Homo sapiens: one gene and its partners. The protein of the gene in region 2 interacts with the protein of the main gene of each other region in a pairwise test. Each region holds a gene or a part of one and is shown on either strand. Other genes may lie near its edges.

The links.
Region 1: the proteins of RPA4 (region 2) and PTRHD1 interact in binary tests that used the Homo sapiens proteins (3 or more experiments, as listed by UniProt).
Region 3: the proteins of RPA4 (region 2) and RPA3 interact in binary tests that used the Homo sapiens proteins (3 or more experiments, as listed by UniProt).

The regions. Positions count from the first base shown.
Region 1 is NC_000002.12:24,786,173-24,797,531, forward strand, and holds PTRHD1 (putative peptidyl-tRNA hydrolase PTRHD1), read right to left. Parts: upstream 7,220-11,359; 5' UTR 7,206-7,219; coding exon 6,954-7,205; intron 6,904-6,953; exon of another isoform or gene 6,514-6,903; intron 6,413-6,513; exon of another isoform or gene 6,212-6,412; intron 5,608-6,211; exon of another isoform or gene 4,420-5,607; intron 4,410-4,419; coding exon 4,239-4,409; 3' UTR 3,556-4,238; downstream 1-3,555. Other genes in the region: CENPO (centromere protein O), read left to right, coding at 7,748-7,793. UniProt on the Homo sapiens protein: As a putative peptidyl-tRNA hydrolase, it might be involved in releasing tRNAs from the ribosome during protein synthesis. Some evidence, however, suggests that it lacks peptidyl-tRNA hydrolase activity.
Region 2 is NC_000023.11:96,877,770-96,888,840, reverse strand, and holds RPA4 (replication protein A 30 kDa subunit), read right to left. Parts: upstream 4,934-11,071; 5' UTR 4,531-4,933; coding exon 3,745-4,530; 3' UTR 3,374-3,744; downstream 1-3,373. Other genes in the region: DIAPH2 (protein diaphanous homolog 2), read right to left, coding at 7,123-7,262.
Region 3 is NC_000007.14:7,706,135-7,717,353, forward strand, and holds part of RPA3 (replication protein A 14 kDa subunit), read right to left. Parts: intron 9,093-11,219; 5' UTR 9,041-9,092; intron 1-9,040. UniProt on the Homo sapiens protein: As part of the heterotrimeric replication protein A complex (RPA/RP-A), binds and stabilizes single-stranded DNA intermediates that form during DNA replication or upon DNA stress.

The DNA of each region.
Region 1 (11,359 bases), on a different chromosome or scaffold from region 2:
CCTAAATCTGCTAACTCCCAGCTGTGTCTCATTTCTGTCTAGCTTCTTTTACCCCCAGACAAAGTCTCACTCTGTTGCCCAAGCTGGAGTGCAGTGGTACGATCTCGACTCACTGCAACCTCCACCTCCCAGGTTCAAGAGATTCTACTGCCTCAGCCTCCCGAGCAACTGGGACTACAGGCACGTGCCACCATGCCTGGCTAACTTTTTTTTTTTTTGAGACAGAGTTTCACTCTTGTTGCCCAGGCTGGAGTGCAATGGCGCGATCTCTGGCTCACCGCAATCTCCACCTCCTGGGTTCAAGCAATTCTCCTGCCTCAGTCTCCTGAGCAGCTGGGATTACAGGCCACCACGCCCAGCTAATTTTGTATTTTTAGTAGAGACGGGGTTTCTCCATGTTGGTCAGGGTGGTCTCGAACTCCCAATCTCAGATGATCCGCCCGCCTCGGCCTCCCAAAGTGCTGGGATTACAGGTGTGAGCCACTGCGCCCGGCAATTTTTTTGTATTTTTAGTAGAGACGGGGTATCATTATGTTGGCCAGGCTGGTCTCGAACTCCTGACCTTTTGATCCGCCCATCTCGGCCTCCTGAAGTGCTGGGATTATAGGCGTGAGCCACCCACCGCACCTGGCCTGTCTAGCTTTATACTATGTCTTACTGAAGAATTCAGAACTTAATTTTTTTTAAGATGCAGTGTCATTTAGAAACATTTTCCTAATTGGCTTGAATGGAAATGGTACTTGATGATTCCTGGATGGCATCACTCCCTAACAGAAAGGGGTAGACAATGGCCTACTTGATGGAGAACTCTTGGAGGGCAGCTCTGACGGCTGTGCCATCTGCATCTTCCCAAGTTTAGGTTCTAGCACGAAGTCCCAGGCACTGCTCTAAGGGGTTTGTACATCCAAACACATTTAAATCCCCACTTTACGGATAAGGGAACTGGGTCTCAGGGAAATAGAGTCACTGCCCAAGTCCACAGAGCTTGAAAGTATGAGACCCAGATTTGGACTCAAGCAGTTTGACACCAAAGCCTAGGCTCCTACTCACTGTTATGCTAGCTAATATAGTGCTCAATAAGTTTATTCAGTGTTATGAAAGATCGTATGCCTCCTACTTTTTTAAACTTTTAAGTTCAGGGGTACCTGTGCAGGATGTGCAGGTTTGTTTTATAGGTAAACTTGCGTCATGGGGGTTTGTGGTACAGATTTGATCACTCAGGTATTAAACCTAGAACCCACTGGCTATTTTCCTGATCCACTCCCTCCTCCCACCCTCCAATCAGTCCCCGTGTGTGTTGTTCCCCTCTGTGTGTTCATGTGTTCTCATCATTTAGCTCCCACTTTCAAGTGAGAACATGTGGTATTTGGTTTTCTGTTGCTGCTTTAGTTTGCTGAGTATAGTGCATATGCCTCCTACTTAATAGAAAAAAAGTCAGCAGGTATGGTCAACTTCAACTTTCTTTCTCCTACAATCTATTAAACCTACGTACATCTATATCTTCACCATCTGCCTTTCCACCAGTCTCAGAAAAGAAGTTTCCCCTCTCTCAGTTCAAGGCCAGTTCTTCCCGTAGCCTTTGACCCCATCTCTTCCTGTTTTCTCTGGACTTCATCAGTTATTCTATTTGGGAACTTTAATCTCTTAATCTCTCCTCTCCTTACTTTCTCCTCCTCACCCATCATCCTGCTCAAGATCTAAGAAAATCCCCACTAGGGGACCCAGCATTGATCTTTCCAGCCCCTTTTCAGTCATTATCCTCTCTCTCCTCCCTTTCAAGCTTCTGGAAAGGACACTTCTCACCTCTTACCTCCCTCCCCTCCCATTCTTTTTTTTTTTTTGAGACGGAGTTTTGCTCTTGTCGCTCAGGCTGGCGTGCAGTGGCACGATCTCTACTCACTGCAATCCCTGCCTCCCGGGTTCAAGCAATTCTTCTGCCTCAGCCTCCCGAGTAGCTGGGATTACAGGCGCCTGCCACCACACCCTGCTAATTTTTGTATTTTTAGTAGAGACGGGGTTTCACCATGTTGGCCAGGATGGTCTCGAACTCCTGACCTCGTGATCGCCTGCCTTGGCCTCCCAAAGTGCTGGGATTACAGGTGTGAGCCACCACGCCTGGCCTCCCATTCTTGTCTCAACATGTTACAATCTGATTTCTACCCTCACTATGCTATTTAAACTTCACTAAGTTCACCAGTACATTCCCAATTGCTAAATGTTTCCACGTTTTATTTACTGACATTCTATGCTGCACTTGATTGTTCTCTACCCCTTCAACTCCTCATTCACTTGGCTTCCTGGGGTTGGCTCTGCCCTCAGCACTCTACCAACTCTCCCTGTGAGAGAGACCCATCCACTCTCCTTGATTCAGGTGACCACCTTTCTTAAAGGGAAATCTTTTTTTTTTTTTTTTTTTTTTTTTTTTTTGTAGAGACAGGATTTCACCATGTTGGTCATGCTGGTCTCAAACTCCTGACTTCAGGTGATCCTCCCACCTCAGCCTCCCAAAGTGCTGGGATTATAGGCATGAGCCACTGCACCGGGCCCATGAAGGGAAATCTTATCTGGGATCTTAGCAGAACATTATCTAAGGGGGACGGGTAATATCCGTATAGGTTCTTAGCTACCTGAGGGCAAAACTGTTTTATGCACAGCCTGCCACAGCAGACAAACAATAGATATCTGTTGAACAAATTACCCCTTATAAACTTTGCTTCACAGATGTCTAAGCAATTTCTGTAGATGTGTCCAAATGTTTATAGAAATATTGTAAACGTTGTACAGAGTGTTACAGATGTTCAGAGAAGGAACTATCATTTTTGGCTTGGTAAGAATTTTTGGCAGTGATAGCACTTGAGCTGGAAATAGTTTAAGTAAAGTCCAGGGGCAGGAAAGGGAGGGGAGGAGTAGTAACATTCAACTCCCATGCCAGAGACTGGAGAATAGCAACTGGAGGGACTCTGTGGAAACATCAAGTTTGAATAAGGGAATAGAAGATTCAACTAAAAAGATAAGTAGGAGGCCGGGCACGGTAGCTCACACCTGTAATCCCAGCACTTTGGGAGTCCGAGGCTGGCGGATCACCTGAGGTCAGGAATTGGAGACCAGCTTGGCCAACATGGTGAAACCCCGTCTCTACTAAAAAAACACAAAAATTAGCCAGCTATGGTGGCATGCACCTGTAATCCCAGCTACTCGGGAGGCTGAGGCAGGAGAATGGCTTGAACCCAGGAGGCGCAGGTTGCAGTGAGCAGAGATGGCGCCACTGCACTCCAGCCTGGGCAACAGAGAGAGACTCCATCTCGAAAAAACAAAAAAGATAGGTAGGAAATACACATGAGGAGGGCCTGAAGTCTAAGCTAAGGAGTGCTGGGATTACTCCATAGGCAGAGAGGAGCCTAGACTACACAGGTAGGTGTTCAGTCGTCCTATGTGGTGGCAAAGCAGCTGCTGGATTGGAGTGTCACACTGGCGGTGAACAGACCGTGGGACACGCCAGTGAGCAAAATGAGAGGCTGACACAGGGCAACGGCACTGAAATGACAAGAAAACAGCTGTAGTACTTGACAGATTTCATTGAATCTAATAAATCTGTATGTATGTACATATATATAGACACACACAAATTTTAACTTGTTATTAATCTTTATAGAGACAGTGTCTCACTCTGTTGCCCAGGCTGGAGTGCGGTGGCATGATTAGAACTGACTGTAACCTTGAACTCATGGGCTCAAGCGATCCTCCTGCCTTGGCTTCCCAAAACCCTGGAATTAACAGATGTGAGCCACCACACTGGCCAAATTTTAACATCTTTGTTATTGAAATACAAGTGTTTAATTTGCCGGCATATTTTTTAACAATACATAAAATACTACCGCATCTTAAAGTTGATGTTATCTTAGATTCAATGAAATATGATAACTGGATGTGAATAAGAAGGAATTCAAAAGCAAAGTTTCAAACCCGAGTGACTGGAAGGGAGTTTCCTTGAGCCCCACAGGAGAGTCTAACCAAATCTTCTATTTGAGCAATGATCCCCAGACAATACTGCTCTCCCACCTTCCCCACTTGAACTTATTAATAAGAGGAAGTAGTTATTAATGACAACTTTAATATGAACATGTGCTTAACCCTCAAGAAATTGTCACAACTGAAAGACGGGAGCAAGCTGACACTGCAAGGAACACATGATGCTTTGGAATGGGTGGCCTGCGTATTCAAACACATCAAAGCAGCAGTTACTTGAACAATCGGAACTTCTTCAAATACTGGCCCACTTCTTCCTTGGGGTAGGGCCGGAGAGCAATACAAGTGGCGATATTCTCTGGTTGCTCAAGCCACAGCATGTGGTCAATGTTCTTCTGTTGCAGGGTCTCGGCCAGCTCCTTTAGGGTGGTCTCATCTGGGGCCTAAAGGAGAAGAACACAGAACACAAACTGAATAGCCCACTTAGGAAGTGTCAAAAGGCCAAAAAAGGTTTCGGGAGTCCTCTTGCCTGAAAGTGGAGTAACAGCTTTACCAAGGAGGGAGCTGCAGAGCAATGATGTCATTCCGTGGTGCACTGGGGAGGGGAGAGAGGCTTCATATTCCAGTTTAGAAAATGGAGATTTGTATCTTCCCTTGTGAGATGTTGTATGCCCAACACACACATGTGTAATGTGTAATTCTGCTCTATACATTTTCCAGCTCTCCTATGGCTGGCGCCCATAATTTTAAGTGCCTCTGACTTTAAGAGCTGCCTAGTGGAAGTTTTTTTTTTTTTTTCTTTTGAGACAGAGTCTTGCTCTGTCGCCTGGGCTAGAGTGCAGTGGCACGATTATCAGCTCACTGCAGTCTCTGGCTCCCGAGTTCAAGCAATTCTCCTGCCTCAGCCTCCCGAGTAGCTGGGATTACAGGCGCACACCACTACACCTGGCTAATTTTTGTATTTTTAGTAGAGACGGGGTTTCACCATGTTGCCCAGGCTGGTCTGGAGCTCCTGACCTCAAGCAATCCACCCACCTAAGCCTCCCAAAGTGCTAGGATTACAGGAGTGAGCCACCATGCCCGGCCCCTAGTGGAAGGATTTCTAAAAGCACATCCACTTCCACTTTCCTCCACCCCTCCCACTCTACCTCACTGAAACCTAGAGGGGTTTTCCTTCTGCTGGGATGGCTCCCACTTGTTTATTAAAGGGAGAGTACAATATTCTCTAACATCCTTCTGAAATTGTTTCTGGGTCATCCTTACTGCCAATTCACCCATGCTGAATCCCATTCCAGGAAGTATTAAAACGATCACTCAGAAAATTATTATTTTTGTGTTATTTTGCATAAAGTTTATCTCTTACCTATGAAGGCAGAAGCCACTAAGCTACTCAGAGGCTTGTTTTAATAAATTAGAGAATGCCAGTATTGCGACTCTTAACCTGCTGAGTCCTTCTGGCAGAGCTCTGCTGGAGGACTCATCAGCTTCTTCAGCCTCGGGCAGCAGCAGAGCATAGTGAGATACAGTGAGGCTCTGGAATCAGACTACTGGACTCCAAACTCTTGCTGACTGTGTGATCGTGGATAAGTTAGGTGACTTCGCTGGCCTCTTCGTCCCTTTATAAAACAGGAATAATGCTTCCTAATGGGGATCAATGAAATCAGGCTTGGACCTGTGCCTGGCACACACTAAGCACTCAATAAATGTAGTTAATCCTGGTATTTTCTTATATTTTATTGGCCCTTCTGACTACAGCGGCACCTCAATGTAATCAGTAGCGACTCCTAAGTCCCTTTCTTGAGTCATGACTAACAACTAAGAATCATGAGACCCTCTTTTAAACTCAGGGGAGTCACTTAATCCCTGTAGGCTTCAGAGAGTTTCACCTGCGACAAGAGGAGTCTAACCTGATTTCTTGAGACCTCTTACTAGGAAGAAAATCTAAGTGAAAAGCCAGCAGCTTCTGTTCTGCCTACACAGATTCTCAAGGCATTTTTCCTACAGGTTACCGCTTGATGTTTCACTATCCAGCAGCAATTTTTCTCTTGAAAGATAATCTATCTTTGTCAGTTACCCATGAAGGGATTACTCCACCCCTCCACCTGAGTTCTGGCTTAAAGCCGTTTTTCCTTATTATAAAAAGCCGTTTATTATTAAAGCCGTTTTTCCTTATTATAAAATATGTGCTTAAGGTAGAAAATTTTAAAAATACAGATTAAGCATTAGGAAATAACCAAAATCTCACCATGCACTACTTAATATGTAGATGTATTTCTTTAGTTTTTCCTTTCAAAGTCTGGATCATTCTGTATATATAGTTCAGTTAGCTTCGCATCATGAGCACTCTTCCCGACCACTAAATATGCTTCAAAACCATAAGGGCTCCCATGAATATCCTTGTGCAAAGCTCTTTGGGTGCATCTGATTATTTTCTTAGGCTACATCTCTAGCAGCAGGATAGAGAGTCAAAGGGTAAGGGTGAGATTTGTTTGGTCATCTGCAAACAGAACCTGACTGCTATTTTAAAAGGTGTACCGATTTACACACCTGGTGCCTGGTCTAGCTGAAGCTAGGTTCAATTTATACTAACGTTTTTAGTATTTATTTTCAAATAATTTGGCGTCCTACCCAGGTAAATACTCAGTTTGACTTCACTTTGCACTGTCCCTTCGGGCTCGGTTTTGCAGGAGGACAGCACTTTGGGGCATGGCTTTAAAAAGTCGGCCAGTGCACAGGCGGAACAGCGGGGACACAGGAGCCACCACTTTACCGCGAGCCCAGCAGGGGGCGGAGGACTGCTGTCCACTCTTCACACAGTCAGGCCCTTCCCAAGGGCGCACCTCCAGGGAAACAGCTCCAGTCTAAATGTTAACGATCACCCCAACTCCCGCCGCACCCACTCCCCGCAGCCAGGCCTTCGGACCGAAGACCACACCCACTTCCGCCCTCGATGTCTCAGCACCTCCCCCTCCGCCCGAGTGCCTCACCTCGAGGACCACTTTGCGCATGCGCCCCAGCTCTTGGAGGTAAGCGGCTGTGTGCGGGTGGTCGCGGTGAGTGTGCAAGGCCGCGGTGGCCGCGTGACAAGCCTGCGCTACCAGTGCGCCCGCCGGCCAGGAGAACGGAGCTTGTGATAGATCCTTTCGTAACACCAAGTATTGTACCAGGACCTGCGGCTCCGCCCCAGAGGCCGCCATCTTCCTGACCACCCGAAAGGCCGGACCTACTCCCCGGTGCATCTTGGGATCAGGGCGGGGCCCTGAGCGCCGCCATGCTTTTGTACGGCAGGATCGCAAAGCACGCCGGGACCGGTTGGTTTGGTTTTGAAGACGTGGATGGCGGGAATTCTCGCTTCTGGCCTGGGTGAGCTAGAAGGGAGAAGGTAGGGGAAAGACCCATTGTCGGACCGGACCGTGGCCAGGGTGGCGGGCTGAACGGCCTTCTTAAAACTCCTTCCGTGGCCGGGAAGCCCGCTGGACCAGAGTAGCCGTGGCCTCGGGAGCGCGCCGGGGCCGCGGGATGGGCGCGGGGGTGGGCATGGACTCTGCTGGCTCGGACGATGGGAGAGGGCGGGCGGCTCAGGAAAGGGGATCCTAGCCGTGACATTTGTGTCATCCGCGGCCCAGGGGTTGTGCCTGAGTGGTGTGTGCCCTGCCGTCTGGGTTTGAATGGGACTAGATGTGATGTGACTGTTGCCATTTTTCTTTTATTAGCAAGGACATTGGAGTCCCTATCACCGGTTGCCTAGACAACTTCATGGGAAGGCCCTTGGGAATCTGAGATGGAGCAGGCGAACCCTTTACGTCCAGATGGCGAGTCCAAAGGAGGTATTCAGAGGGTCGCCGCCTCCTTCCTGCTGCTGCCCAAAGATGACCCGCAGGCTGAGAGAGCCCTTTCCTCCTGGAACTGACGTGGGACCTGGCCTGTTTGGGAGCAGAATAGTGAAAGGAACTAACATTGAAGACAAAGGGACAGGCAGCCAAGATTATTCGAGGAGGAAAAATGGCTTCGTTTCTAGGCTCCCACCCCTTTTGAAACGGATAAGTTGCATCCATCATATGCTCAGTGTTTATATTCTGAACTGCGGTTCTAGCCAGGGAGGTCCCTTTCCTCTCCCCGGATTTTTTGGGCCATGTATGCATTACTCTTGAGGGAGGGCCAGTGTAGGGCAGTGACTTTAGTGTTGGCTAGAACTGGTTTTGAGTGTTGGCTCTGCCATGATAAATATTGTGACCTTAGGCAAGTCACTTTATTCTCTGCCTCTGTTTCTTCATCTGGAAAATGGAGGTGAAAATAGCACTGTAGTTGTGGTTGTGGAAAAAGTATTTCTTTTGTGGTGGAAAAGTATTGAACTCAGACTTTTCAAGTGAAGCATTTAGCACATGTCTAATATATAGGAAATATTCAATGAAAGGCTTAATTCTTTACATACTTTGTGTCTTAAAATGTAGAAGGTGTTTAAAGAATGCTTGTTAGAGTTGCTTAGAATTACGAAACTATTACTTTTACTTAGTCCTTAGTCAATCCTTTGGAAACTGAGATTTGCGTTTGAATTTCTGTCCAGGAGTAAGTTGCTTTCTTCTTTAGTGCCTAGTAATATTTGTGGACAGTTCTGGTTTTGTGTGACTTTATGTTCTTTGCTACTAATACTTTTTAGAACTTTGAAATACTTACTCAAGCCTGATGCCTAAATCCAAAGGGTTCTACGTTAGTACTTTGGGAAAGCTTGCCATAAAACCTAACTTAAATTACAGTTTTAAAAAGAATTTCTGAGCGCGTCAGTGAATTTGGTTATCCTATTTTTCTCTGGGTCATCATTATCATTGATAACAGAGAAGTAACTATATTCAGCCTAAGATGACTTAAGCTGAGACTTTAGATAATAAAAGTATATGGGGTAAGATTTATTGTTACTTTAAGACTAAAAATAAGTTTGGTGACTTTATGTAGTGGAAACATGCTACACTCAGGAGTAACCTGTTCTCTAGTCCAGGCCTTATTTCATTTCTGTTAAAGTAAGTGATGAGGTGGAAGTTTTGGATTATCAAGAGACTTAGACCAGTCTCCTTATTCTCTACCCAAAACAATATTTAAACACTTAGCTGTTACCCATACTGGTTTTATCCCTCTGCTTGTTTGATTTCAGTTTTTTGCTTATTATTTGAATTCTCCCCACTCATTTGAGAAGGAAGGACATGGAGTTGTAGTTGCAACCAGATGATTTATTCAAATAGGCAGGGATTTTGACTTTTTTTGGGACAAAGCTGACTGGCTAGGATGAGATGCAATCATAACTTCCAAGGTAAAGCAGGCCCAGCAGATACACTCCCTCTTTTCTGTAGTAGCAACGCTAAACAACAACGCTACCCCCTTGGTGTAGAGGGAATCAGGTCGGTAAAGAAGCTGGGCAGGTTTGAGAGCCTGAGAAGAGGGCTGTGTGGAAGTGCCTAGAGAAGGAGCAGCATGATACTGTTTTGAACACCTACTTATCTCAGAAACTTTGGGAATATTGATATCTACTGTTTTAGTAATATAGAATTTCCATAAAGTAGAATTTGGTGAGGCGTCTCCTCTACCACCCTAAATTATTCTATGTGTGCGTGCTTTTCAGATCACCTCCTGGTTGGACATTAATTTTTGTAAGCTCCGTGAGGACAGGGACTTCGTTTTGCCACCACAGTATGAATAACTTCCAGCACGGTCCTTGGTCCATAGTAAATTCTCAATGCATAGTTGTTGGATAAATAGAGATTGGTGAATAAAGCAGTTAATCACGTGCTAATTATTAGGACTAATTTATTTAATTAGAATTTTGGTTTCTCACGATTATTATTGCGGTAATGTGGGTTTTTCTGTGGACATGAGCCAAGTGAATGTAATCTCCAAGAGTGTCATGCCTGGTTGTCCGTGTTTCGGTAAACATTTCCGGAGTGTTGGCCGGGCGCGGTGGCTCACACCTGTAATCCCAGCACTTTGGGAGGCCAAAGCGGGTGGATCACAAGGTCAGGAGTTCAAGACCAGTCTGGCTAACATAGTGAAACCCCATCTCTACTAAAAATACAAAAATTAGCCGGGCATCGTGGTGCATGCCTGTAGTCCCAGCTAATTGGGAGGCTGAAGCAGGAGAATTGCTTGAACCTGGGAGGTAGAGGTTGCAGTGAGCTGAGATCGCGCCACTGCACTCCAGCTTGGGCAACAGAGTGAGATTTCGTCTCAGAAAAAAATAACCATTTCCGGAGTGTTTACCATGTGTAAACACTTTGTGCTAGGGTTAAGGGATCCATGGGTGAACACAAATGCACACGGTCCCTGATTTTGGAACTTTAAGGTTCAGTGGAAAAGATAAGCAAATCAAATAATCACACTAATGAATATACAATTAAAACTATAGTGGCCGGGTGCGGTGGCTCACGCCTGTAATCCTAGCACTTTGGGAAGCCGAGGTGGGAGGATCGCTTGAGCTTAGGAGTTTGAGACCAGCCTGGGAAACATAGTGAGACCCCATCTCTTTATTTAAAAAACAAAAACAAAAAAACTATAGTATTGTCTCAGAAGGATCTTTGAGAGCTTATGAGCTGGCACCTGACCTTGTTCTGAAGGTGCTACAAAGGTTTCCCTGAGGAAATGCTGCTTGCATTGAGTGCTAACGAGCTAGAGTAGCTGCAGGTGAAGGTGGATAAGGGGCGGCTGTGGAAGAGCCTTTGGTGTGTGTGTTGGGGGTGGGGGGATCAGGTCAGTAAAGACGCTGGGCGGGTTTGAGAGCCTGAGAGGAGGCCTGTGTGGAAATGCCTAGAGAAGGAGCAGCATGATACTGATGAGGGTAAGAGAGATCCAGAGGCCAGTAGGCCTCGTAGGCAGTGTGAAGTCATCGAAAGGCTTTAGCCAGCTGGATGACACGATCCAGTTTAGATTTTGAAATATGGCTTCAGTGTATGGGCCACCTAGGAAACTTGTAATAGGCCAGAAATGGTAGTAGCTTGAACTACAATGGTGGCATTGCAGATGGGGAAAATGGAAATATTTTAGAGATACTAGGAATGTATATTCAATAGGATCTGGTAATGGATTGGGACTGGGTCAGGGAGAAGGTGTGAGGAAGAAAGTACTGGTTTACACAGCTATAGATGGATAATGGTTCCAGTCATGGAGGGGTTTAGAAGGGGAGATGATGAATTCAGTCTTGGACATGTTGATTGTCAGGTTCCTGTAAGTCTTCCAAGTAGATACACTGAGAAGGCAGGTGGATATTCTGCTTTCTCAAGAAGCAGGAGAGAGGTATAAGCTAGAGATACATATTTGTGTGGCATCGACATGTATGGCCATTAAGGCTGTGGGTACTGATGAGATTTCTTCTGGAAAGAAGAGGTCTTAGGACTGAGCTCTGGAAAATTTC
Region 2 (11,071 bases):
TGCAACTTTAATATGGCGCAAATTACTTAACCTCTCTGAGCCTCAAGTTCATCTACAAAATACGAACAATACTGTTATCCTGATTGTATATGTACATTTAAAGGTCTTAAAACATTGCACAGGGGTAGTAAATGCCATATACATACTAATATATACACAGATATATATATATCTGTATATACATGGTAATATATATATAGATATATATATCTGTGTATATATATAGATATATATAGATATATATATCTGTATATATATAGATATATATATCTGTGTATATATATAGATATATATATCTGTATGTATATATATAGATATATGTATCTGTGTGTACATATATAGAGATATATATCTGTGTTATATATATATATAAAAAACACATATCACACATAATTTTTCATTATTTTTTAATGTATTAAAAATGCCTATATGTCATCCAATAAGACATTTGGAGATGGAGTCTCAATTTCAAAAGAGAGGTCTGGCCAGGTGGGTGGCTCACACTTGTAATCCCAGCACTCTGGGAGGCCGAGGCAGGCGGATCACGAGGTCAGGAGTTTGAGACCAGCCTGGCCAACATGGCGAAACCCCGTCTTTACTAAAAATATAAAAATTAGCCAGGCATGGTGGCGGGCACCTGTAATCCCAGCTAGTCAGGAGGCTGAGGCAGGAGAATCACTTGAACCTGGGAGGCAGAGGTTGCAGTGAGCCGAGATTGTGACATTGCACTCCAGCCTGGGCCACAAGAGCAAGACTCTGTCTCAAAAAAAAAAAGAGAGAGAGAAACAGAGAGGTCTGAGCTGAAAACGTAAATCTACGCATCACAGGGATCATACATACACATACACACACACACATACACACACACACATACACACACGCACAACACATACACACAACTCCTACTCTTAGAACAGTACTTGGGAGATAATAAATACTAAATAAATGTTAAAATGTTAACTATTACTATCTTTAATAAGCATTTCAGAAGTCAATAAAATTTAAGCTTATCAAAATTAAAGTTAACACTTAAATGCATATAGTAGGAACTCAATAAAGGTTTCAGGAACAAACATAATTCTTGCTAGTTACATTTTTTAAATTGCTGTTATAAAAAGTAAACAGAAATTGAAAAAATATAAGAACTTATGTTTTTCAGCTTCTACTCCAAATATTACTAAATTTAGTAGGTAAAAGTAACAAAATGATCACTAATAATTATGACCATAGTAAGATTATTATATTGGCCTTGAAAACACTTTCAAATATATTTATTCATAGTTAATTTAGAATCAACCTCAATATAAATACATACATTTCGTAAGCCTGTGAGCCATAGGAAAAAACCTTGGGTGGATTATAATCATCAATTATGTTTTTCAGGTTCCTCAGGCTTAAATGTCCCTGCCCAAAATAGTCAATAGTATGTCCCCAGGATTTGTATCTTATCCTCAAAAGGTGTGGCTAACTATCAGGGCAGGACCTTGGAGAAAGGGGATATTAGCCAAGTCATTCCCAGTCTAAACAAAATTGAAAAAGTATGCATGCCAGGTGGGTGTTCAAAATGAACTTTAAAAATCTGCTACCTTTAACATGGACTAAATATACATGTATAAAACAATCCAGTGATTTTCTGCCTAAAAGTGTTTTATTTCCACTGACATTATATCTAGACCTACTTACTATTTTTCCACTGCTATCTCTTACCTGCAGCAGAATCCACTAAAGCACACGATTCCATTCAGAAGAATAAGCGTTGGGAGGAGTAATTTTAAAAGCCTAAAAAAACCCCAACGAACACAGATAGAGGACATTTCCCCTCACAGGATGGGAGAGAGGTTGGTCTTCTGCCTTAAATTCAGGTGTACATATCTCAGTGTATCAGTTTGCAGGGACAAAAGCAGTTTGGCCTCCCAAACAAAAAAAAAAGAGTTTTTTTCCCCCTCCGCATGCTCCTAGTATAGGAAAAACAAGTGGCTACGCATCCACTGGCCAGCTGAATCAGCTCAAGCAATTATGGGAGTGACCTATAATTATACTCATAAATATCAGATTTTAATGTCACAAAAGAATATTGTATCTGCTAGACTCTTTCAGCTCCACAATTCCAAGTATATATGCCCCTTGTTGCCTCTCCCCCAGTATGATTTTCCCTAGGACAGGTAACCTTTTTCAACAAAAAGTGGTTCCGAATATTTTAGGTTTATGAAGACCAGAATTTTCAAAATGTCTGATAATTTAAGTAACAGGTTTATAGTATGTTATTCATCTGTGCTTTTCAAGAGTGCCATTTACAATTTCTTTACTTTCAAGGGGAAGAAAAATATGCATCACAAAGCTTAAGCAAGAATTAGTGGTTTTTCTAATGGCCACTGACACAGGCCATTTTCTGAAAGTTTTCCTGAAAGTACGGAGTACTGGCAATGTTCCATTTAAGAGATTTTTTTTTTGTTGCAGTTTTCATGATTCAATTTGACAAATAATGTTCTTCTATTTGTATATTATATATGAATATACATATATAAAATATAACATATATTCATTAAAAAGTATATGTTTTTTATTTCCTCTAATGTAAAAAAATTAGCATCTTGAAAGACACCATCTTTAGTGTATAGGTAACTGAGGGCTTTCGTTAATGGTCAATTATTTAAAAGTCTCACATAATTTATATAATCTACACTAAAATGTATTGTTAGAACTAGGCTATAGCATATGTTCTGGGTATTTTATATATAGAAAAGAAAAAATTCTGGATAAGTGAAACTATTAATCCTCAAGGATATAAAACAAAAAGGCTTTTTCAAATGTACTTAGAAAAAAAAATCACACAGGAAAGTTAAGATTTTGTAAACTACTTTAATAAAACATTTGAATAAATTTGTGTTAAACTCAGTAAGTTTCATATTCCTATGAGCTGTTTCCCTAACGTCCTAAAAATTACCTTTTTATACATAAAACAGAGCATTTAGTAAAATAAATAATACACCAGCACATCAAACTTACAGAAACTCTGGCATCCATTTACCATACAACTACAATAAATTGTAATTTCATCCAAATACCACATCATATATGAAATAATCATTGAACTTCACCACATTTTAAAAAATTTCAAAGATAACCTGGCAAAAATGGTTTATTTAAACACAGTATAATCTTATTTTAAGAAAACATAAATTCATAGTAATAAGAGCAAATCACACATAAATGTTTGAACTGAGCATTAGAATTCACAAATTAGTATCTTCAGCTCATTTGAATTAATCAAATACTAAATACTATATTGAGCAAGAGATAACAGTATCATTATAATAAGCTAAATCCAAACACGGAAAATAAGTCTAACATAAAAACAAGCAAGACTTTTTTTTTTTTTTTTTTTTTTTTTGTCTTTTCGCTGGCTCCCTGACTGCAACTAGTTTTTCTTTTGGAAAAAGAAGCTCCAACACAATTAAATAATAAATTTCTACATTTTCTGTAGTTTTTCTTCCCCGAAAATCATGTTTCCATTAGCTTGCTAGTAAATCCTACAGAGTTGTCAATTTATCCATCACCGTCTCTCTCTGAGCTTCAAATACAGAAAATCCGAAAAGTTCAAAGCAGTTAGAAAAGCAGCGAGTTGACAAAGAATGCCACTTGAGATTTTTTTTTTTAGTCCTACTTCCTAAAAAGTCAACAGGTCAAAATTACTCACAGCTGGATGCAAGGGTCTTCGAAAAATGAAAGGATGTTTTCCCTGCCTCAATCAGCAGACTTAAAATGCTCCCGATCCACAGTGGGATAGATGTGGCCCTCAACGGTCAGATAATCAATCGCTTCCTTGATGGCCTTGACGCTAAGGTCGCAGAGCTGAGCCCGGAGCTCATGGATGCTCTTCCCTTCCTGATGAGGACACTCATGAATCAAACGCAGCACTTCGTCCTGGATGAAATTGCGGTGACTCTCATCGTTATCCCCAGCATCATTCACTTCTGATGGAGACACAGGCACACTTTCTACAGTGGTATCACGACGGGCTTTATCCAGCATCATGTGTGCATTGACCGTTTCCAGAATATGCACGGTGAACTCGTTCATGTCCTCTAGGACATGAATTTTCAATACCTCAAGGCTCTTTGTTCCCGTGGGACATTTGAGGATACCAAACACTTTGACATATACTCCGACTGACAATGGAGTCACCTGCTTGACTTTCTCTCTACCAAACCACTGTCGGGCCTCGATTGGTTTCGCGGTCATATCATCAATTTTGTAACAAATGTGATTTGAAGCCTTCTCTGCCCCTCTGATTACCCCCACGATGGAGACCTGGGAAACTATAATTCCCCTAACCTTGAACACAGGGTCAAACACAGTAGAGCTGAGAAGCTGGTTCACATTACACGGTACAACGTCCTGAATTCGGACCTTAGGTCTTTGGGTCTTAATAGCAGGAGTTGCATCTCTCTCACACAGTTGGTCACTGCCTCCACTCGCTCCATCAGCAGCAGAAATGCTGCCATAGCTCCCAAACCCACTCTTACTCATCTTCAAGACAGCTCAGGCTGAGGAGAAGGTGGGCTTTGGCTCGTCTGGGGCTCCACGGACGGCTTTGAGTTCTCCACAGAAGGCTTCGAGCTCTCCACAGAAGGCTTCGAGCTGTCCGAAAGGCTACGATTGAATGCTGGGAGGCTGAGGACGTGACAAGCGTCACGCTACCTGTGGACCAATCAACTACCAGAATGCATCTGCTTCCAGCCAGTCAGGGTCGGCCACCTTCTCACCTGATCGCATAATCCTTCCCTGTGTGTCAGTGGTTGCTACATTCTAAAAGTCCCACACGAGGGGAGCCCTGTTGCTTAGCTGGTCAAAGCGCCTATCTATTAAAAGTCCCACGTGTAATTTCAAGCAAGCCTTTCCCAACATCTCTATAAAAATGCATTTTTACTAGCCCCCCTCTTTATTTCTTAATGCTGCAACTTCTACAATTACTTTTAAAAGACTCATTTATTCATTCATTCAAACAACAATGCAACAGAAATTTTAGGAGCACAAAGTGCTTGGCAAAACGGTAGAGTGCTGTACGTTACGTGCAGGGGGGAAAAATGCACCACCGTAGTTACTGTTCTCAAGAACTCACGTCCCCTGTTCATTCAAACCATTAAAACTAGGAGCATCAGGCCGGGCGCAGTGGCTCACGCCTGTAATCCCAGAACTTTGGGAGGCTGAGGCAGGTTGATTACTTGAGGTCAGGAGTTCGAGACTAGCCTGCCAACGTGGTGAAATCCCGTCTCTACTAAAAATACTAAAATTAGCCAGGCGTGGTGGTGCAGGCTTGTAATCCCAGCTACTCGGGAGGCTGAGGCAGGAGAATCGCTTGAACCCAGGAGGCAGAGGTTGCAGTGAACCGAGACAGCACCACTGCACTCCAGCCTCGGTGACAAGAACAAAACTCCGTCTCAAAAAAAAAAACAAAAAACAAAAAACAAAAAACCTAGGAGCATTTTGGAAGAAATGGCAAGACAATCGTCTTTCAACGATTATCATACTCTAAGATAAGTCACATCTTAACACTGGCTTTTAAAAAATTTTTTGTTGTTTTAAAATTGTAATTTTCTGGGCATTTTGCCAAGTGCACTATAAATAAGTAATTAATATATTTCAATTTATACATAAATCCAAACTGAATGACTGAGCTCTAAATTATTTTCAAGGCTCTGTGGACAGGACAGAAAAGTACAAGACTTAGACCTATTATATATTAGGAAAAACATGGATAAAATCACAGTAAGTTTTTTATATACTCTTATGGAGTAAATTCTGAACTTAAGATTCTAGTAGTTACATAAATAGATCCCGGATTTTTGTTTTTTTGTTTTTTTTTTTTTTTTTTTTTTTTGGAGACAGGGTCTCGCTCTGTCTCCCAGGTTGGAGTGCAGTGGCGGGATATGGGCTCACTGCAACCTCCACCTCCCGGGCTGAGGTGATCCTCCCACCTCAGCCTCGTGAATACCTGGGACCACAGGCGCACATCACCACACCTGGCTGACTTTTTTGTATTTTTGGTAGAGACGGGGTTTCACCATGTTGGCCAGGCTGGTCTCGAACTCCTGGACTCAAGCGATCCACTTGCCTCAGCCCCCTGAAGTGCAGGGATTATAGGTGTGAGCCCCCACGCCCGGCCAAGAATGTTTTGATATTTTATTGAAATTTTATTTTTCTTTATAAAACATTTTATTTTGGGTGTTATTGATTTAAAGGCTTAATAAAGGAACCACAGTTACTGGAATCCACCATTGGCAAGTAACCTAATAACAATCCTTTGTAGTTAGTTAATAGCCTAAATTAGTAGAGTTTTGAGAAGTTTATTAATGCTCTCACTTCTTTTACTGGTTAAAATAATTCACTTTTTGCTATCTCAAAATTACAGAAATATGTGAAGAGTATATCTAAAACTTATAGAAGAACATAAAGTTATATATACCTTTCAAGTTTTAAAAGAATAAAATCGGCCGGGCGCGGTGGCTCACACCTGTAATCCCAGCACTTTAGAAGACCAAGGCAGGTGGATCACGAGATCAAGAGTTCGAGACCAGCCTGGCCAATATGGTGAAACCCCTTCCCTACTAAAAATACAAACATCAGCCAGGCATGATGGTGCGTGCCTGTAGTCCCAGCTACTCAGGAGGCTGAGGTAGAAGAATTGCTTGAACCTGGGAGGCAGAGGTTGCAGTGAGCCAAGATCGTGCCACTGCACTCCAGCCTGGGCAACAGAGCAAGACTCTGTCTCACAAAAAAAAAAAAGAATAAAATCATGGAGCAAATATACTTAATTTGCTTTATAAATAAATATATAATAATTATCTGATCCCACAAATAGATTTCCATGTAAATGTGGATATTTAACTTCTGGCTCTATGTTAACATTTGTATTCTTAAAATTGTACATTACTAGAGATCCAACTAACTAAATATATTTTTAAAAGTTTACGACTTCACAATCAGATGCTGCTGTTTTATTAACATCAGATTTTTAGTCAGGAAATCTTGAGGTTTAAATAACAAAACTTATTATATTCCCAAACAATTATATGCACTACAAATTGTATGAATCATACCGAAATGATAAGAACGACTTACCTGACCGGATTGCTGGTTAAAGAAACCCTGAGGGATTCTAGGCAATTAAGAAGTTTCTCATCTGATATACCCGATCGTAATTCATGAACATATTCTTGTGAAGACAGGGTGCATTCATGTTTGCTGTTTTTCAGCCCACCCTATAAAATAAACAAAGAGACCATTTTAGACAATGTTTCAAAAAAAATTTAAGTAAAATAATGCATAGAATATTTATTTTGTTATATAAAAATGTGTGCAGAGTGCTACACACTTAAAAATTCTTGATCACAGAATTGATATAGTAAAATTGTGTTGTATATATCTCAACATTTTCCTCAACCTCATTTAAAAAAAAAATTACAGTGCTGGTGCTCATGACCTGAATAGAATATGAACTTGAATTACATAAAGTGTCATTGACAGGGGTGCTTAAATTTACAATTCAGGCATTAGAATTAATATTAGCTAGTCCTCCTTAACCCAGAGGATAAGCATTCAAAAATCATCTTATTAATTTTCCTAGTTAAGATATGTATATTCAATTCCACAAAATCCAGCAAATAAAATTTAATATATACCATTATACATAACCCAAATCTATTGAAAGATATCAGAGTATCAGCCTTTCTAAAAAAAATAAGTGAAAACAGTTATTAAAATGTAAAACAATATAGTCTCCAATTAGCATGTTAATTAATCAAATCAGTTGAAAGCATTCACCAGTTCCCAATTATTCCTTTCTGGTACTCTCAGGTTGTAGATTAATCTTAAAAAGTCATTAAATACATTTATCTGATAGTGACTAGTTTTTAACTTAACTTTCAATATAGATGGAGTTGTTTCTAGAACTCATCTCATCACAGCTCCTTAACTTCATCATCTTGCTATAACTATATAAGTAGTTCAGGGAAAAGGCTGGGAGGAAAATATTGTCAACACATTCACTATACTAACAACTGATAGTTTCACATTCTAGACGTACCTAATCATAATTGCCCCTTTCCTATACTGTAAATGTATATCCCTGAATTAAGACTCCAAGCTTGAGTCCCATTTTACAGGTTCATAAAAATTACACTCAGTTTCTGCTAAGCATCTAAGGATACTTACTATAAAATAACATCATAAGGATATACTATCATAGGAAATATAATATTATAAGGAGATCATAAGGAAAGGAATTTTTCCCCATTGGGTAGAGGTATTATCATTAGAGGATATGACATTTAAAAAAATGTTAATAATGAGAAATGAGTTCCCTATGATTTCACACTATTTGGGTTTTTATTGAGAATGCCTCCTCAATGTAGAAAGTGTTAATCATTCTTAATTTCTGAATTTCAAAAATCCCATTAGATGCTAAATTTTTAAAGTCTGATAAAGGCTTATAACATATAGGGGAACTCTATTCCCTTAGCGCTGTGGCAATATTATAATTATTATAGCACTTAAAATATTGTGGTAGAGGTCATTATTTGTGTCTGTCTCACTTCTACATTGGGAACTCCATCTATGCCACATAACTAACACCGGTCATGAATTTAGTGAGCTTCAATAAAAGTGTGTTATTATTGAACTTCTCCATAATAACTGCAGAACAAGGAATACGATTTCATACTTTGAGCTCCCATATTTTGTATAATGGCCACTGACTTGGTATTTCTTGCTTCGTTATGAGACACAGTAGACGTTAAAAATATACTGGATGGGCCGGGGACGGTGGCTCATGCCTGGAATCCCAGCACTTTGGGAGGCTGAGGCGGGTGGAACACTTGAGGTCAGGGGTTCGAAATCAGCCTGGCCAATGTGGTGAAACTCCATCTCTACTAAAAATACAAAAATTAGCTGGCATGGAGGCACATGCCTGTAATCCCAGCAACTCGTGAGGCTAAGACACGAGAATAGCTTGAACCCGGGAGGTGGAGGTTGCAGTGAGCTGAGATCCCGCCACAGCACTCCAGCCTGAGCCACAGAGCAAGACTCCGTCTCCTCCACAAATAAAAAAGTATACTGGATGAATCATCATCACCTAAATGGCACAGTAAGTAAAACCATCACCGAGAGATCATGTCCATATTCCTGTAACTTCCTTATCCATCTATTATTTCACAAGGAATAATAGCAAGTAAATATTTAAAGCATAATTTTGCAAATTCAAAATTATAGTTTTATTTTTGCTCGGCCAACTCACTTTCTACAACAACACAAAGTTCATCAGTAACAAGGGATCTATTTACTACATGTGCCAGTCTGAAAACTACTAGTAAAACGAATTAAAATTTTCAAGTCTGTAGTCACATACCGCTTTCATATAATCCTCAAAGTTATTTCTAAATTAATATATAAAAAGGCACCACTAATCTTCCCCTAGAGGATTGTATATGGAATTTAACCCTGTTGCGTGACCTTTGTATTTTGCAGTTTTCTCTGCCTTGAAGACCCTTATCCCAACCTCTCCATTGCTGGCTCCCATCATTTTAATCTCAGCTCCATAGTCTTCTCCCCACCCCACATTCTAGTTATCATCGCAACACCATTTTAAATATCATTTACAGTATTACCTCTATGAAAATTTATTTTTGTAATTTAGTTGTTTACTGTCTTCTGCGCTAAAACATAAGCTCTTATGACAGGATTCTTGCCTGCCTTGTTCACCACTATATCCTCAGATCTTAAGACAGTGCTTAAGTAAGCATTCAATACATATTTCCTGAATGAATGAATGGATGGATGGTTGGGTGGATGGATGGATAGAGAATAAACAAAAGGGTAGATGAGTGATGAGTTTCAACATGCTGAAGATTCTAAGCTTAGTTTTGCTTCAGAATATTATAGTTCTGAGACTTTCAGTTGTAATATATTCAGAGATGCTGAATATAGAACAGGTAAACTGAGACACTGTATGGTATGCTGAGGACAGCTCAGAGGTATTTTATATTGGGCATCTCATGGACACAGAATAATCTACTGAGAAAATGTTGGTTCCCTTTTTCTAATTGATTCCCTACAGGATTAGTCTAATTGGGACATATGGTTATGGCCGAGGTACTCCTTGTGGACAAGTGAGCCAGCCCATCACTTTGTGGCTCACTCCCCACCCAAGTCTTAGAAACAAGCTTAAATTATAAAATTTAGGATCCTCTCTGGTTATAAGGAATGGAAGCAAACAATCTACTAGAGCATGACAGAGAATATATAACTTTATAGAACAGATGCTTTTTACCAAGCTTAGAAGGACTTTGAGATTTTAACATAAGTTCATATTTGAAAATTATGAAAATATGATAGCAAGCTAAGGCTGGACTGGCCCTTAAAGATCAGTTCTTCTAATATCCTCATTACAAAAATGAGGAATCCAAGTAATTGCCTAAGTTCACATAATCAGTAAGAGTATGAGACTAAAACAAATATTCTGGTCCTTGGATAGCTCCTGTCTCTACTATATACTACTTTTGCTCAATATTGAATAAAACGTTAAAGCAACAAGTATTTAATTCTGAAATCTCTATTACAAAATGTCAAGGTGTCAAAGTACCTTCAGTATAATCAATATGGTGCAAGAAAATATTTTTAAAATCACCTAAAAACAAAATAGTGCAATACATTAATTCTCATAATACTTAATAGGGCTGTAAGACAAGAATGGCTTATTAACATCCTGTTCTGATACTGAACAAAGGAAACAACTAGATAATGGATGGGTAATAATGGAAATTTTAATTAGCTGCTCTGTATGAGATTAATGAAAATTACCACTGTGCCCATTTGATCTTTAAAAAATAATGCAGACAAAGTTAGCAATTAGCATACATCATGCTATTCCAAACCTAGGTGAACAAAGAGCTTTCCTAATTTGAAGCCATTCCTTAATTTGAAAATCATTAGGATGGAGATACTAGTCAATGTGACTGGGCTTGTATTATTTTAAGACAGTACACAAATAATCAAAAGGTAGTTTGGGCCAGTT
Region 3 (11,219 bases), on a different chromosome or scaffold from region 2:
CAATAGTGTTGTGTATGTTGACTGATTTGGGGAAGAGAGAGTAATTAGTGAAAATATGTGAAGTCCATGTTGAGTCAGAACAAAACGGATAATCACCTTCTGAGATGAAAAAAATCATCAAAAAGAGTCTAAAAATTATCTGTTGGTACAGATTTTGGGAAAATCTAGAAGAGGTGGAAGTAGTGAGGCTGCTCATGTTATCACCCTAGTCTGGGTTTGCTGGTTAGAGCATGTATGATTGGAAGAGAGAGAGAGAAGTTCAGGAAATACCAACAGAGCATGGGAACTGTACTAGGTTCAGTGATTCCAAAACCAAAAATGAAACCTATATAACAATGCTAACAATATATGTAATATTTCCAGAGTTTCCAAAGCCTCATTTAAATTGTGCCTGAAAATGTTAGATATCATTTTTTAAAATTGGAAAAAATGAGGAATACAAAACTTAAGTAACCCATCCAAAGGCACATACTAGTAGGTAATAATGAAGATAACTAATAATAACTCATTTACATAAGAACTCTAAGAACTTAGTACTATTATTTCTAACTCACAGATGGGAAAACAAAGTGTCGATGAGGTTGACTAACTTGCGTAAGAGTGCGTGGTTAGTAAGTGACAGCTGGGATTTTAAACTAGATTGTCTGAGTCTGTGCTCTTAATCCGTATGTTCTACATCCTATCTGTTGGTTTTGTTATTTTTTGGATAGAGCATCTTGACTTACTTAGATTTAAAATAAAATCCATTGCAGCACAAACATTTGCAGGGGTGGCTAAGATCCTAACAGAGGCCCAGGGAGATGACAGCAAATCTTTCCTAATGCCAGGCTTATATTCTTGTCTCATTCTTGTCTTTGAAGTCAAAACATTTTTAGTCAGTCTCTAGAAACAGAAACATGACTGTGTCAGGACACTAATTAATTAGCATTGAGGAGTTGTTTTCTGATTATAAATATATAACTATTGTACTACCATTCCCTGGTTGGTAGGATTGCTGTTTGTGCACATTATTTGAGGAGATGGAATAAACAGGCAAAATCAGTTTTTACAACCCTGTGTGAATACTGGTCTGTACAGCAAAGATTATATTCATTATGGTTATAAACTCCTTGTCTGCCTACAATATTAATATGGAATGAATGTTATCACCAAGTTACTGTAACTCAGAAGACTTCAGAAAATATCCTCTAGGTATCAAATTAAATTTGTAACTACGGTACTTTTTGCTTGCCTTGAATGACTTTCCCTGGAAGCCAGAAGCCTTGTGTTCAGTTTCTAGCACCATCAGCAATGTTACCTTGGGTAAATCATTTAAACATGTTGAACGTATGTTCCATTTGGCAGTGGGAATGCCATATGCTCTCAAATTGCTTCAGTGTGATTTTGTAAAAGTGAAATTGATTTTAAAATATGAATATATAAAGTGATTTCACTACTTATTAAGTAGAATGCATTGTATACTTCATAAAGCTAACAAATAATAAAAGACTAAATGATATTTTGGAATTTAAAAAAGACCTCTTTAGTTTTCTGTGATCCAAAATCTGGCTTAATTTTGCCTTAAAGCTATTCTTAGTGTTAATATATAATGCTTTTTAAAAATCGGCCAAGGTATCTTTGGGCATTTGTAGTCCTTTTCTGTTCAGAAATGTCATTAACTTGAAATATAAAGATGCTTTCTAAGGAAACTGGTTTGCCTAGCCAGATCTTTTAATGTAGTTATTTTGCTATGTGAGCTGTAAAACCCAAACATTGAGGCTGCTTTCCACAATGCCTTGTTGCCCAGACAGTGATGTCATGTTTTAAGCATGTTTAGTTTGCAAAGGTCCTGCTTTTGATCCTTTAGTTGTCACTTTTTTAATGCGGCTCCTCCTGAATCACAAAGGTACTGAAAGTAATTTGCTTCATTAAGGTCTGTTGCTGACACTGTTGTATTTCAGTCGTCATTCTTCTCTTAGCCTCCTTCATTAAGACCTTATTCAAATTTGGATCATGGTTCTGCTGCGACATCCACGCCATTATCATCTAAATAGCAATTACATATTCAAACACAACAGCTTCTCCTTAACTGTCTGTAACTTAACATTTTACATAGATTCAAGTGGGAATTAAGAATAAAATGAATCTTTTCTTCGTGATTTACAACCCTCCCTTTCACCCTTGGTTTACTAGTTAATGTTGAATAAGCTACTTGTAGACGAAGGAAGACAAAATTATTGATTGCTCAGCTTTAGTTTTGTAGAGAGATATATATTATAAATTGTTTCTGTATTAAACAGTTACCCAAGTGTCAGTGACCCTTATTCAATCACCCATGTATTTATTAGACAGCATTTACCATTTTGGATATAAGGGGATCAGGTCTAACACTCTGTTAAGAAATTAATAGGATCTTTTACAAAAGCAGCAGTGCTTTATAACTTGAAACATTGAAAGGAAACCTTTAAAAATAAGTCAACATATTTGTCCTTTTGGGACAGACCTCAAAAATAGAAGCAAATTCCATTAAAGTAGTAATATACTTTTCCTACTACTTCGTTTTGGCCATCTTAAAATTATATTTTATAATTAGTAAATAAGCTGATTTGACTGAAACGAGCAACTATGTTTATTGGAGACAGACCCAGCTTTTCAACAGATAGAATGTTAGGACTTTTTTTGCCCATTAATATGTGGTTTAAAGGGAAGTTATAACAAGACACCAAATGCATATGTATATATACAAATACAGGCAGTTGTATGTTTTTAAGAAGTTTTTAACCAGCAAGGGGTGTGTGTTTGTGTTTGTGTGTCTGTGTGTGTGTGAGAGAGAGAGAGGGAGAGAGAGAGAAAGGGAGAGGAAGGGAGAAAGTGTGGGAGGAAAAGAGGAGAGGAGGAGAAGACAGAAGAGGAAAACAGTCCTAACTATTAAAAATACCAATTAACTACTTAATAACACATCTTTCAGTGTCTTGCATAATAATTTCTTAGATATTTTGCAAAATTCGGCATGGTTAAGGGATTTTGTAATGGTTAAATAATTTTATTAGTTGTTTGAAATTGACTGTCTTTGTTTTCCTATCTGTGTGCTGAGATTTATCTCAATTATATGTGTGAATAATGTTATGCATGGGGTTACTTTTAATATGGATTTAACTGAGATTCTAGACTATATTCTTTGTAAATATGAACATTAGAAACTTGTTCAATTGTGGGTCGTCATTAATTCAAGTCAGGAAGGCTCACCCTTTGTCCTCACACCATCTCTTAAGAAGATAAGTCCTGTGGATAAGCTGGAGAGGTCAGATGTTGGTGTTGACTTAAAGCATTGCCACCCGAGGAGGGCAGAATGCTGTAAAACAAAGCAGAAGGAACTGTGTGGAGAGAAGGTGAATGACTGGGGGACTTGAAGTTGAAAGAAAAGTCAGGCGCTGAGCCTGCAAGGGCAAAATGAGGCTTGTGGGATAAGAATGGTTTGTCAGAAGTCACCTGTTTGCTCAGAAGTCATCTTTCCCTAACAAGGGTCTGTTTGGTATGTTCCTGTATTACAATTTATAATAACTGTTTTTTTACCTGCTGAGGGTAAGATCTTTAAAGTGACATCTTACCAGCTATTATTCTTAGCTCTTGCTTATGCAAATCTCAATTTGAAAAATAACCTTTTAAAGTTTTTTTTTTTAAATAATGAGAACATATTCAGAATGACAATGTGATGAACACCTGTGTACCCACCAATTGGTTTAAGAAATATAATTTCTTGTTAACCTTGAAGTTCTCTAAGTCTTCTCCTTACTCCCACCTCAGAGGTAAATTCCACTCTTTAAATTCTGCTTTTTTGGGGTCTCTTTTTAAATAGTGTTAACATATTTTTCATATGTGTAGTTTTGTATGTTTTACAACCATATATAAATCGAGTCACTCACAATGTATGTACAATATGTTCTTCAGCAATTTGCCTCTCTCACTCAGTATCATGTATCTGGTCTCATCTATATTGCTCTATGTATCTTTAGTTCTTTCATTTTTATTTGACATTCCATTGATGAATATACCACAATTTATATATCTGTTCTGATGATGAACATTTGGGGTTTTGTTTTGTTTTCCTAAAAACAGTGCTGTTACTGAACATTAGTAGGCAGAAGAAAAAACAAAACACCTTGATCTGTGTCTCACACTTTATGCAAAAATTGCCCAAAATGAAAGGACTAGTCCCTAGAATAAGTACTTGCAAAACTCAGCAGTAAAAAACAAAAAACAAAAAAACATAAAACCAAATTAGAAAATGGGCAAAAGACATGAAGAGACATTTCACTGAAGAGGATATACATATGGCAAATAAGCACATGAATAAGTGTCATTAGCCATAATGCAAATTAAAACCATAATGATAGGTCTCTACAAACCTGTATCAGAATAGCTAAAATAAATAGTAATAACACCAAATGCTGGTAAGGATGAAGAGAATCTGGATCACTTATTGATGATAGGAATGTAAAATGGTACAATTACTCTGGAAAATAGACAGTTTCTGAAAAGCTGAATATGCAGTTACTATACGACTCAGCAATTACACTTTGGGCATTTATCCCAGAGAAATTGAAGACGTATATGTGCATAAAACTGAGTATTTATAGCAATTTTATTCATAATAGACCCAAACTGGATACACACCAAATATCCTTCAACAGGTGAATGGTTAAATCTATGGTATATCTATATCATGGAATAATACTCAGCAAGAAGAAGTAACAAACTGTTGATATATACAACAACCTGGATGAATCTCCAGAGAATTATGCTGAGTGAAAAGAGCCAATCCCTAAAGGTAACGTACTGTATGACTTCATTTATGTAGCATTCTTGAAATGACCAAACTGTACACAAAAAATAGAGAAATCATTGGTCGCCGGTGGGTAAGGATGGGGTGAAAGTTAGAGGCAAGTGTGTGTGGCTATAGAAGGATAACACTGGGGATTCTGGTGGTTATGGAGATGTTCTGTATCTGGTCTGTGTGAATGAAATATCCTGGTTGTGGTATTGAACTATAGTTTTGCAAGATGTTGCCATTGTGGTAAACCAGGTAGAAGCTACATGGGATATTTCCATATAATTTCTCCAATCTGCCTGTGAATCTAGAATTATCTGAAAAAGTTCAATTAAAAGACAACATGATGCTGTTACAAACATCCTTGTACATGTCTCCTGGTGCACATATGTGAGCTTTCCTCTAGATTTTATTTCCGGGAGGAATTACAGGCTATGCACATGTTAACTTTAGTAAATCATGGCAAATTTTTTTCCCAAGTGGTATATGAAAATTCTATCCTTTTCATATTATACTCTATCCTTTTTAAGGATATTGTACTTCAAGGATATTATACTCTATCCTTTTTAACATGTAATACTGTGAGACTTAAATTTTTATCAGTCTGTTGGTTAGAAAATGGTATCTTGTGTTTTTAATTTACATTTTCTTGTTTATAATGGAATTGGACATTTTTATTTATGTTTAATAGTCATATGTGGTTTTTTTGCTCAGTAAAATCACTATTGATCTCTTTTCCCTGCTGTATTGTCTGTCATTTAAAAAGTTGATTCTAAGGGGATCTAGTTACAAATTTTGTTGCATTTTAATGACTTATGTTTTTCTTTTTATCTGTTAATGAAGAGACATTTTGATGTGACAGTTTTAAAATATATAAAACTTTTCCTTAACTTTCATATTTCAGTCTGATTTAAAAAGTCCCTTCTTGGAGATCAGAAAGTCATCTTCCTATAGCATCTTCTTATAGCTCTATGGTTAACTTTGGTTATAGTGTGGTATAGCGATCCGATTTTAATTTTTTTTTGTAGGGATAACCTATTTTCTTAGTACTATTTTGGATTAATTCATCTTCTTTTCTTCACGTATCTTCCAAGCTTACTCTTACATATATAGTATCTTTGGTTCTCCTACTTTATGAGGCTATTTTTCTCTCTCTTAGCCAATGTCATAAAGCTCATTATATTACCATCCTTTAAAACCATCTCAACCTTCCTTTGTTCTCTGCTTTTCTATATAATGAAGCATCAGTTGATCTTATGCCAAATAAATAAAAAATGAATAACAGATGGATAATCACTCAAACCTACCCACTCTGATGTGATTTTTGTTGAAATTTTATTGAACATATAGATTAATTTAGGGGAGAATTGCTATATTTACAATATTTAGTCTTCTTCAGAAATATATTTCTGTCCATTTGCTTAGGTTTCCTTAATACATTTTTGTAAAATTGCCATGCATTTTTCATAAAAATCACATTTCTGCTTTTGTCAGATTTATTCTTAGAGTGCTTTTTTGTTTTATTATTATAGTAAATATTTTTAAAGTTGTATTTTCTGTTTGTTGCCAGCATAGAAACATGTAGCTGATACTTGTAGCAACCATCTTGATAAAATATTTACTTCCCATAATTCATCTTTAGATTCTTTTGAATTTTCTAAGTACGTAATTATAACCTCTGTGAATAGTGAGTTTTGTTTCATTCAAATCCTTGTGGTTTCATTTTATCTTTTGGTCTTACTGCATGGTCTAGGACCTCTAGTATGTTGAAGAGAAGTGTCAAAGAAAACATCTTTTCCCCACTTTTGATTGTAAAAAGAATGCTTATAATGTTTGCAATTGTGAACTACTACATACAATACATTTTGTTTTTTTGGGTTGCTCCTGGTTGGCTAAAGGCTTATTGTAGAAACATAATAGGCATAGAGTGTTGTTAGAATTGGTATAAGATTTGATTTTAATAGAATTCACCTGTAAAAATTATCTTGGCCTCGTGTTTCTTTAGTGGGTAGCTTTTATGTACCGAATGAATTTGTTGATAATTGCAGACTAGCCTATTGTGTCAATTTGGTAAGATATTTTTCTAGGTGATTGCTCATTCAAAAAATATTCTAGGGCCGCGCGCGGTGGCTCACACCTATAATCCCAGCACATTGGGAGGCTAAGGCAGGCAGATCACAAGGTCAGGAGATTGAGACCAGCCTGACCAACATGGTGAAACCCTGTTTCTACTAAAAATACAAAAAAAAAAAATTAGCTGGGCATGGTGGCGTGCACCTGTAGTCCCAGCTACTCAGGAGGCTGAGGCAGGAGAATCACTTGAACCCAGGAGGCGGAGGTTGTGGTGAGCTGAGATTGCGCCACTGCACTCCAGCCTGGGTGACAGAGTGAGACTCCATCTCAAAACAAAACAAAACAAAAACAAACAAACAAACAAATCTAAGTTTATAGACAGAGTTTTTTTTTTTTTTAAATGATATCTTCTTACCATTTTTTAATCTCTGGGATTTTCATTATGTTCTGCTCCTCCCCCCCATGGCAATATTGTTTATTTATTGCTTTACTATTTATTTTCTTAGTGTTTTCAAAAGACCAGTTTTAGGATGTATTGTTCCTCTTTTGCATTTTATTTTCTGTTTCATCATTTCTTGCTCTTACCTTAATTATTTCCTTTTTCATTTTCTTTGGAGTTTATTTTGTTAGTTTCATTTTGACTTTTTAAGTTGGTTGTTTGTCCTTGGATCATCATTTTTAAGCTTTTAAAAATTCTAATATGTTCATTAATAATGCCCTGTATTTCCCTTTAAATGCTATTGAGCAGCTTCCAAATTTTAATTTGTATTATTTCCATTCGTTTGTCATTTTGCACATTTTTCTCTTTTCAAAAAATTAAAAAAATTTTTTCTAGAGGCAGGGTCTCACTCTGTCACCCAGGCTGGAGTGCAGTGGTGTGACCACAGACAGCTCACTGCAGCCTCGACCTCCTAGTCTCAAGTGATCTTCCTGCCTTGGCCTCCTGAGTAGCTGGGACTACAGGCATGTGCCACCACACCTGCCCCACACGTTTTTCATCGTCAATACTTCTTTGTTGAGTTATTTTTAAATGTTTTAAGATTTCCAAAAATTGAGTTTTTTTGTGTGTTATCTTTTTGATGAAGATTTTTAATTTAATGTCCTGTGGTCAGAGAGGGTGGTACAAATGATAGAAATTCCTGAAATGTGTTGAGACTTGATTCATGGCCTTTTCTCAAAGAAAAGCATATCAGTCTTAACTGACCTCCACTTATATGACTTTGCATATTGACCAGCATTTCCAACTTTTCTATAAATCCTTGGATGTTGACAGCATCTAGTTTATTCTCTGATGAGCAGACTTTCTTTGGCTGCTCCAGCAGAGTGCTGCTGAAGTGTCAAGCTGTTTGCTCCTAAATGTATGTACTTGTTTATTATAATTGCATGATTTAATTAAAATATGAATTAAGAGGTTGTACTTAAACATGAATAAAGAGGGAGTACTTATAGCTACGAAACTTTGTTAAATGCTTTAGAAATAATCTATATAGTTTAATTGCTAAAATAAAAAAGGAGCTGTCAATTTAGGTGTGGGTGAGATGACTTAGGATCTAGGAATCAGTGGTAGATTGATTTGTAAATATCTTTAAATTCTCATTTGCTTTAAAACAGTTGGAGGTTGTGTACAATGTATTATATGTTGGACTTACATAAGAAAGACTTAGAACTCCATCAGGTGTCCCTAACTGCAAATAAAGGCCTCAGCTGAAAACCTTCCTGGGGGAAGGTTAAAGCAAGTAACAGGTTGGAAGCTGGGAGAAAGTCAGGATTTAGGGTGTTGGGCACTTGTGTAGAGTAATTTTTTTATTTCCTCATGAACTGGTTGTTCAAAAATTTTTCTTTTTTTTTTTTTTTTTTTAGTTGATAGTAACACTTGCAGACCTGTTGTACCATGTGGTTGAACTAAGCAGAACAGGGGCACTAGAATTAAACAACAACAACAACAACAACAAAAAACTACAGAGGAATTACAGTTGCCATAGGCAGCAATGAAACTAGAACTAACCAACTGCAGTTTTTTGTTGTAGGCAAATCCACAAATCTTAGAACTTAAAAAAAATACTTTTTTTTAGTGTTTTACGAGATGAACTCTGAATTATAGAATATCTCACCATTAATATGCACCTTCAGCATAGAAACAGTTAAAGAAAATAAACTTACCTGAAACTATTGTATTCCCTGTGCATTGTCTTCACATCCTTTTTCTGAGTACCTGAGACAAAGTGAACTACAAGTAGGATAAGAACTGAAAAGTTTTCACCAGATTTATGAATACAGTTTCATCAATGATCTTGGTGAATAGTAGTAGCAGAAGAGTTGACCATAGACCTTATAGCTAGCTGTTAGAATAGCTAATTTAATGAATTTTTTCCCAAATCTGAAACTCAAAGCTACTGATAACCAAAGCTAGTTCCCTGATAAGTAACTTAGGGAAGTGCACTCTTATTTCAATAATTAATGCTTCCATGAAATTATATAAACATTCATGCATTCCGACAATATCTGAATATTTCTGTGTGCTAGGTGCTGTGCTGGGTGTTGGGTATGCCATTATGAACAATACAAAGAAGAGCTCTGTTTTCATTCAAATGAGGATAAAGTTTTTCAATAGCAATTATTTTTAAAAATGAAAATAAAGATCCACAAATTTCCAGAAAAAAATGACCTAAAAGTCATAGTTTTACCATTGAATGTAATATCCTTCCTGTAATCCATGAATCAGAGTATGTAAAGAGATGTAAAAGATGTAAGAAAGAGTTTTGAGTTTTAATTTGGGAAAAGAAGTATAAGACAGTAGTAGCAGTCATATAAAATAGAATAGCATCAAACATTTAAAAAATAGTATCGTGATAGCATAGAGCAAAATTTACATTTTAACCATTTACTAAACTTTGGTGAAAACTATCACTTAAAAAATCCTTAATTACAAGGAGATAGTATAAAACATAGTTTGTTGCTGTTGTATATTTGTTTTTAAGTATCTCAGACAAATCGAATAATTTTTTAAATTAGAAACTAATATATGTCAGGCATATGGCTACAGTTAAAATTTTTTTTGAAAATGAAATTATGGATGCAGAAAGCAAACAAGCTGTGGCAGAAAAGGATGGATCTAAATATGAAGAGGAGGAGGAGATAAGAGCAATCCAGCTGCAAAAATTACTCATGCCATAGGTAGTTTTAGATGCCCTAGAAATAGTTCTATGTTGTATTGAATAACAGCTTGAATCAGGATTCGATATTATTACAACATGGGAAGGAACAATGCCAAGAAAAATTGTATTTATTCTTATAACTTCAAAGTGATACAGGAGCTCGAAAGAAATTTAGGCAGTTAGTGAGGCTAAGAGAGTCCTTGGCAAGGTTTCCTTTTAAATAAAAAGCAGCCCCCAAATCATTTCTTTTCTAACAAAAGAGCAGCCTGAAAGATCGAGCTGCAGACATAGATAAGCAAGCTGGAAGCTTGCACAGGTGAATGCTGGTAGCTGTGCCAATAGTAAAGGGCCACTTGGAAGCCAGGTATGTTCAACATGGAGGCTCCACCTTCCCTTTTCTTTGTCACCACGTGCACAGTAAAGAGGCAGGCAACATGGTGCTGGCCAGGTAGCAAACCCATCTGCCTAGTAAAAGATTAGGGTGGAGGCCGGCGCGGCCGGCGCGGTGGCTCACGCCTGTCATCCCAGCACTTTGGGAGGCCGAGGCAGGCGGATCACGAGGTCAGGAGATCGAGACCATCCTGGCTAACACGGTGAAACCCCGTCTCTACTAAAAGCACAAAAAAATTAGGCGGGCATGGTGGCGGGCGCCCATAATCCCAGCTACTCGGGAGCCTGAGGCAGGAGAATGGCGTGAACCTGGGAGGCGGAGCATGCTATGTAAATGGCACACCTGGTCTGATCAATCTCTCGTGCCCTATGTAAATCAGACACCGCCTCCTATAAAACCAACCTCTTCTTGCCCTGAACCCGGAAACCCGTTCGGGACCCCTTCCTCTGCACGAGGGAGCTTTCCTCTTTCTTTTTCCTTTTTCTTTCTTTCTTTTTTTCTTTTTTTTTTTTTTGAGACGGAGTCTTGGTCTGTTGCCCAGGCTGGAGTGCAATGGCATGATCTTGGCTCACTGCAACCTCCGTCTCCCGGGTTCAAGCGATTCTCTCACCTCTGCCTCCCGCGTAGCTGGGACTACCGGTATGCGCCACCACGCCCAGCTAATTTTCGTATTTTTGGTAGAGACTGGGTTTCACCACGTTGGCCTGGCTGGTCTCGAACTCCTGACCCCAAGTGATCCGCCTGCCTCAGCATCCCAAAGTGCTGGAATTACAGGCATAAGCCACCTCGCCCA